2 separate regions of the Homo sapiens genome follow, and region 2 is linked to region 1. The links come from fine-mapping of genetic effects on gene expression. A gene starts in region 1. The other region holds a variant in brackets. All regions are shown on one strand. Distances are between the middles of the regions.

Region 1 (4,000 bases):
GAAAATACTTGTTTTAATTACATTGATTAATTAATTTTTATATCCAAAACATATTTTTACTCAGGTACCCACTTATATATACATCATCAAGAGATTATATTTCAATTATTCTTGTTTTCATTTTGGCCTCAGGCACATGTTAGAGCATGTGTAACTCTGGTTTTATTTCATTATCCTCTATTTGTGGGGTATGTCTGAGACCATCCACTGGACAAAATAATGCAACGTATAATTAGCCACTCGGCTCTTGGGAACATTTCAGCTTGCTGCTGACAAGCCTGACTGCACAGCTCATAGCTCTACAGGCTGTAGAATCCAGGAGGAACATTATTTTGAATTTCAGAATAATCATTTTACTCGAAAAACCTTTTTTACCAATATCTGTGGACTAGAAACTCTTAGTTGTTTACATACTCTATTTTTTATATTTGTACAAATTTATGGGGTACATTTGAACTTGTTTTTTTTTTTTTTTTTTTTTTTTGAGATGGAATCTTGCTTTGTCACCCAGGCTGGAGTGCAATGGCGTGATCTCAGCTCACTGAAACCTCAGCCTCCCTGGCTCAAGTGATTCTGCCGCAGCTTCCTGAGTACTGGGATTACAGGCAACAGCCACCACGCCTGGCTAATTTTTGTATTTTTAGTAGAGACAGGGTTTCACCATGTTGGCCAGGCTGGTCTCAAACTCCTGGTCTCAGGTGATCTGCCCGCCTTGGCCTCCCAAAATGCTGGCATTACAGGCATGAGCCACTGTGCCTGTCCACATGTGAACTTTCATTACATGTATATAATGCATAGTGGCCACCCCTCACATTTTGGACATACAAACCACACAGTCATGAATTTACATTTCCTTGTTTCATTGCTTCCATTTGCTCTTTCTGAAATAATGTTTTTGTTCCCCAGAATCTTCTCAAATATATGGTAATTGTGCAGAAAGTGGATACCATTGAGATATGAATTTGTTGTTCTATTCTAGCTTTAAAATATCACCCAATTCTCCATATATATGTGTATCAATACTTTTAATGTTGGAAATACTGTGTACTTCATACTATTTCAAAAAAATTTCTCTTATTTCAGTTTACTTGTTACACTAAAGTAATATTGGGATATAAAGTTAGACCATTAGTAATCTTGAGTTTGGACTTCTCAGGATTTAGTGAGTTTTAATGAACTTGGTTACTATTCATACCAAACCAGAATAAAGGATAGACAGGCAATAATATACCCTAGGGAGATAGAAAAGACACTCATGTAAATTAAGTAAAAATTATCTGGTTGGGGTGGGGAAACTTTTCTTTTCAATGGCATCTAATCTACAGATAGAGTTATTGGGAGGAGTATTTTTTCAATATATATTTATTGAACCTTTACTATGTGTGTGATGTACTCTTCTAGGCGCTGTGGGTAGAACAACAAATAAGGGAAAGATCTCTGTTTCTATGGACCTATATTTCTAGTGAAGAGCATACAAATATTCAGAAAGATGCATGGAATATTAAAACAATTTGGTTAACAATTAAGAATATGGAAATTAAACTTTTATGCAATAATACGACTTCAAGTCCATATTATGTAGGGCTAGAGAGAACCATGAAGGGATAAGAAAGAGAAGAAGAGACACAAAGGTAGGCTGTATAATCATTTAGGATTAAGTTTGTCTGTAAATAACAGAAACACCACATACAAAATGGCTAATATAACACTGATGTTTATATTGCTCACGCATAAAAGAATTCCTAATGTAGGTGGTTCAGGTTGGAATGGGGGCTTTACCACATCATCAGGGACCCAAGCTTGGTCTGGCTCACTCATCTGTCTTTCCCAGGTGTGACCTTATTCCCCATACTACCCATTACATCCAATGCCACTACTCACATTTCATGTAGAAGAGTTGTTCTCAATCTTTGCAACGTACCAGATACACTGAAGGAACTTAAAAAAATCCCAATGCCAGGGCCACTTCCCAGACCCATTGAATCAGAGTCTCTGTACGTAGGACCCAGGCAGGCATCAGTAATTTTTAATGCTGGCGAGATGATTCCAGTGTTCAGCTATGAGATCATTCCAGTGTTCCGCTAAATTAAGCACTGTTGATGTGGAACTTAGTCTTCTGACTGCACATTACTGCAAAGGGAAGCTGGGAAATTCAGTAATTTAGCTGGGTAATTATGAGCCCACATGGAAAAGCAGAAGGAAAAAAGGACATTGGGAGGCCACCCACAGGCAGTCTGTCTCAAAGAGGAAAAGGGGAAGACAGATTAACTATGGAAGAGGCAGTAATCTTGCACACATGTACATCAAACATGAGTGGGTTGGACACAGGTGCGTGGGAAGTTAGAAAGAGACTCAGAAAAGGGGAGGCTAAGGAGAGAGTCCAGGTGTTATCATATTTGAAGATTGAATTAGTTGTCTGGTCCCCACTGATGGTTCTATAAAAGCTCCATATTATATGAAAAACCAGAGACTCCATGAAATAGGCACAGAAGCTCAGTAGGGCAAATATTATTCTCGTAGCCATAGCAGCACTGAGGGTAATTATATTACCCTGGAAGCTTGGTGGAATCAAGTCTAATGCCTGATCTACTCCTTAGATTATAAATCTCCCACCCTTCTCTATGCTCTGGATCAAAAGGGAAAAAGCTAGACTAACAATGAACAGTAAGTGGGGATGAATTAATCACTTGGTTGCATCACTTTAAAAGCCAGCAACATAATTAAGGTTGTAAAGAAAGCGGTTAAAAATTAAGATTTTTAAAAACCTTTTTAATTTGAAACAACAGCACAACAAAAACAAAACCAAACCCTAAACCTATTTCTTATTTTAGGTACAATATGCCATTCAAAGCCCAGATTCAAAAATGGGTGCAGTACCTTTCCAACTCAACAGACATCATCGAGAGCTGGATGACGGTGCAAAACCTGTGGATTTATTTAGAAGCTGTCTTTGTGGGAGGAGACATTGCCAAGCAGCTGCCCAAGGTTTTGTAATCTTCTTTATGATTTCATCAGATTTTTCAGAGAAAGCTCTCAGAGCGATTACCCCCTTAAATAATGCAATAATATTCCACTTCTATTGAACCCCCTTCCTTCAATCTTTTTGTTGTCACTGTTAATGCTGTTATTCTTCAAAGGGAGTGAGGAATTGTGGAAAGGAAAGGGGTGACAATCAGAGTAAGAATGCTGTAAAACTGTGGAGGTTTGATAGGAGATAGAGGGTTAAAAAAACAAAAAATAAGTGGTCGCATAATTGATATGCTTCTTTAGATAATTTCAAGGTAGAATTTGGAACAGTGTAGAATTATGGTGCAGTTATCTTGACAATGGTAGGCTAAGTTTTTCTACTACAGACATTTTAAAGTAATGCATACTATACAATGTACCCAATTATATCTGTACAGTAAAATTGAGGGGTGGAAATGTGCAGAAAAAATCTCCAAAACAAAAAGACCTTCTTTTCAAGATGTCAAGTATATATTTATCATCAAATCGTAATCATCTTACTGGGTATATATGGAGTATATTTTGAGATTTTTAAATGAACATTTTAACCAATTCTCAAGGATTCTTATTCAATTACCTTAAGTCGTATGCAAGATTATAACATTTTAACAATATATTTCAGTTTTAGAAGCATGATTATTTTAAATGTTTTCATCACATAGGTTTCTGAACTTCTTTTTTGGTTAGTTTTCAGTTTAATTACAGATGACAGATAAAATCAGACTGCAGACCATTTATTTTGGAGGCAATAGTGAAATGTATTCACTCACTAAAATTTTACTTTATTTTTGATTTGTATTTGTGCATGTTTTTCATCTTCTTTTCTTAAAGGTTTTAAGTAGGAGGTTTGGATTTTTTTTTTAAATTATATTTAAGTTCTGGGATACATGTGCAGAATGTGCAGGTTTGTTACATAGGAATACAGGTGCCATGGTGGTTTGCTGGACCCAGCAACCTGTCATCTACATTAGGTATTTCTCCTAATGCTATCCCT
Region 2 (4,000 bases), 38 kb before region 1:
ACATCTGTTAAACAAAGTTTCAAATTTTCTTTTGTTGTACAACTGGTTAATCATAGCATATCCTACCAATACATGTATTTCTTTGTAGGCTGTCAGGATGCGATGTCTCCATAGCTGTGTTCATTGTTTTTCTAGATAAGTAAAAACTGAGTTTAGGAGGTCTTACGAAACTTTTATTAGGAAGAATAATAGAGTAGGCATGAAGGTATCAGGTAGCTAAATGGCTTTTGAGACGCCACCACTGTTGCAGTGTCCACTTATTTATCAGTGTTAGAGTCATTGAAAGGTTTTATTGAATTGACTGCCCAACATCAACACCAAGAACTTGAAGGCTATTGTATGAGACTGGATTTAGGAGAAGAGTGAGTGATCTTATTGCCCTTAATTTAGGAAGCTCAAATCCATGGAAGAACATTTAATGATCCTTATTCCTAGAGATAGCTGAGCTAGATACTCTGCATGAATTGAACTTTCTGATAGTAATGATGTTGGTTTCTTCCCACAGATTGAAGAAATTCATGTAGGTCTTGAGGCTTCATTATTGGTGAAGGCTCCAGGCACAGGGGAATTGTTTGTAAACTTTGACCCTCAGATATTAATCTTATTTAGAGAAACAGAGTGCATGGCCCAGATGGGTCTGGAAGTCTCTCCACTGGCAACTTCCCTCTTCCAGAAACGAGATAGATACAAAAGGAACTTCAGTAACATGAAGGTATACTACTTTTATTTTTTCCCCCCATTCTTGGCTAGCTCTGGAATGTATTATAAAAAAATATGGTGATGTGTCATATTCAAGGAGCAGAAAGTGGCCAGGATGAATGGAGTGACTGAGGGGACAGTGCCATGGGGTGCAGCTGCAGAGTTGGCTGGGGCCAGGCCGTTACAGGTCTTGCAGGCCAAGATGAGAAGCTTGGGTTTTATTTTGAGTGTACCAGGAAACCATTGGAGGATTTCGAGCCACTGAAAAAGGCACGATCTCTTTTTATAATAAAAGTTATTCTTACTGCTGGGTGGAAAATGGATGTTAAGAGGGACGAGGGGTATCAGCGGGAAGCCTGTTTGTGAAGTGTTGCACTGGCCCAGGATGAAGATGAGAGCTTGAACTGGGATGGCAGCAGAGTTGTTTGGAGAATTTAGAGTTATGTCAACAGTCAGGTTATAAGAGAACTCAGGAATAATACCTGTGGTTTTGGTGTGAGCAGTTCCATGAATTAAAGCAGGGGTGCCGTAGAATGCTGTGTAGGTTGCATTCTTCATAACTTGCACAATACCATGCAGGGGCCCTGACTGTAAGTTCAAGTTATGGAGATGGCGAAAACCGAAACTAGTGTATTTGGAGCAGCAGGAGGGAATCAGTAGTTCCCATTTAAGTACAAGATAGTTTTTAGACAGCCAAGTGGCAGTGTTGTCCATGCAGTTGGATACTTAAGTCTGGAGTTCAGTGGAGAAGCCAAAGTGGGAGGCATGCTTCTGAGAGTTATCAGAATATCATTGTTATTTAATGTCATTGTCCTGGATGAGATCTCTTAGGGGAGAGAATACAGACAGAGAAGAATGGAGGGCCACTGGGCCAAGCATTGGGTTGTTCCAGTATTAACAGATCTGAAAGAAGAAGACAGGTGTGCAAATAAAACAGAGGACTGACCTCTGAGCTGGGAAGAAACCAAG[T/C]GTCAAGGAGACCAAGGATGGCCGGGCACGGTGGCTCATGCCTGTAATCCCAGCACTTTGGGAGGCTGAGACTGGCAGATCACCTGAGGTCAGGAGTTCGAGACCAGCCTGGCCAACGTGGTGAAACCCCGTCTCTATTAAAAATACAAAAATTAGCTGAACATGTTGGCATGTGCCTGTAATCTCAGCTACTTGGGAGGCCGAGGCAGGAGAATCTCTTGAACCTAGAGATGGAGGTTGCAGTGAGCTGAGATTGCACCACTGCACTCCAGCCTGGGTGACAGAGCGAGATCCGTCTCAAAAAACAAACAAACAAAAAACAACAAAAAAAGGAAGCCAAGGGTATGAAAAGGCTACTGAGAGAGGGACTGGTCACCAGTGGCAAATGCTGCTACCCAGGGGATGAAGAAGGTGAGATCAGAGATGCGGCCATGGAATCTGACAACATGGAAACCATTGTTAAAATTTCATAGTGGTTAACATCACGTGACAATACTAAGTCCATGCACTTGCACTGTACTTTACATTTAAAGCCATTTTCATGCTCATTATTTCATCTGATCTTTTCTACCACTACGTTAGGTAAGTAGGACAGAATACTATTATTTTATTTCGTAGATGACAAAACTGTGGCTTAGAGAAGTTAAAAGATTTAGCAAAGGTCTCATAGCTACAAAGTGGCAGAAGTAAGACCAGAACCCAGACTTGTAGTCCATCGTCTTCCCACCACTTCATGTCATATTAAAAAGTTGTATTGGCAATGGACAGACATTCCTCAAATGTAGACTCATAAAATACCAGTCAGCATGTTGAGATTCCCTTTTAGACTCTTTCACATTAGGAAACTCACTTAGTCAATTTACATATTCATAAAGAAAATAATATTTTTACTAAGAAACTATAATTATAAGATTATGGAATTACTGATAATTTAATTGTATTTGCAGAGTTGTTGTTTCACTTGTCTGTTTCAGGCAACAAACACTTGTAAGCACGTTGTAGGGTTTACAATAACCGTATCATTATATCATGACTTTATGGGTAAAGAACTTGAGTGGGGCTTGCATAGGTGATTCTTCTGTTCCATGTATTGTTGACAAAGGTTGTTTATTGGTATTCAACTGGCAGATGTTCAATCTGTAAGGTCCAAGAAGGGTTCTTCTAGTTTCTGTTTCTTTCCTGAGGAAAGCTGGAAGGTACACTCCAGTGGGACTGTGAACAGGCACATCTATACATGGCCTTCCAGTATGGAGGCCTCTGGCTAGTAGAATTTCTTATATGGCAGCTCAGGGTTTCAAGAACAAGCGCTACAGTGAACAATAAAGAAGTCACATGGTCTTTATAATAGCCTCAGATGTCTCACAGCATCATCTCTGTTGTACTCTGTTGGACTGTAAACCTACCCAGATTCAAAAAAAGGGGATGTGGTTCCCCCCTCCCCCATGAAGGGAAGAGGATCAAAGAATGTTTTAAATGACAATTCAAGGGAGTAAATTATCATCTCATTAACATTTATTATCTTGGAGGTTGAGAGTTAAAAGTTTCTGCTCAACCTGAGTAGCTGGTCAAAGCAGATCTATTGGCAGGTTTAGGTGACCATCTGAAGTGTTGCAGAATTATTGTGCTGAATATTTGACAGAGCTTTCAGGCTTTTGCAGATATGCCAAAGTAGCTGAGAATTTGTTTCTTCATCTCTTCCTTGGAAGACAGTTTAACTAGAAAGAGAAGACCAAGTACAGGCTAATAGTTACAAATATAGGTTCTGAAGCCAATTTAATCTGGATTCAAATCATTATCTTTGGGTAAATGACTTCACCTTCTAAGCCTGGGTTTCTCTTTTGTCAAAGCAGTTGAGTAATCCCTTCTGGGATTAAAGGTGGGAAGTAGAATGCCTGCTAGAAGCAGATTCTAAGAACTGCTTCCAGATAGAATAACTGGTGGACATTGAAAAAAAACAAGCAGTGGATACAAGTTTCAGGAAATATGTAAGTAGCTGCGAATAGAACCAGAAAATTTAGACTTTTCTAAAGTGGCTTTTATGGACATTGAAAGAATCTTATAGAAATTGTGGAAAAACATTATATGAGGAAAGGATTATGAGGTCCATCTGGGAAATACTGTGTTTAACAAAATTTTCAAAGCCTTGCAAGGCTTCTTACTTCCTTAAGCAGGTTTCTAAGAATCATTAATATTAGCTGTGACCACCCAAGAGGGGAGATATTGTATGCAGCATTTTCAAAATTTATCTATCAAAGGGACATTTTTTCTTATAGAATCTCTTTGGACCTAGTACTCTAGGCAAAACAGTTTGGAAAACATTCATCTATTATCA

Which allele goes with the higher level. Positions count from the first base shown, and alleles are read on the strand shown. Sizes are in standard deviations (SD) of each study's normalised expression.
For the expression in cerebral cortex of the gene that starts at base 1,998 in region 1, allele C in region 2 goes with a higher level than allele T (moderate effect, 0.51 SD a copy in GTEx).

Evidence for each region. PIP is the estimated chance that this variant, and not a neighbour inherited with it, causes the effect. A credible set is the group of variants that fine-mapping cannot tell apart.
Region 2: its variant is the best candidate, but not a certain one, in a credible set for the expression of DNAH5-AS1 in cerebral cortex (GTEx, PIP 0.53).

What each region holds. Positions count from the first base shown.
Region 1 is chr5:13,858,437-13,862,436 of GRCh38, reverse strand. It overlaps DNAH5-AS1 (DNAH5 antisense RNA 1), which reads right to left and starts at 1,998. Exons shown (of 3, transcript NR_199035.1): 1 at 1,882-1,998. It overlaps DNAH5 (dynein axonemal heavy chain 5), which reads left to right. Exons shown (of 79, transcript NM_001369.3): 30 at 2,832-2,985. RefSeq lists an enhancer at 2,371-3,570.
Region 2 is chr5:13,896,918-13,900,917 of GRCh38, reverse strand. DNAH5 (dynein axonemal heavy chain 5) reads left to right here. Exons shown (of 79, transcript NM_001369.3): 15 at 506-712. DNAH5-AS1 (DNAH5 antisense RNA 1) reads right to left here. Exons shown (of 3, transcript NR_199035.1): 3 at 1-3,383. Among named protein-coding and RNA genes, the nearest start is that of DNAH5-AS1, 38 kb to the right of the region's middle. The variant T/C (reference allele first, on the strand shown) is at 1,669.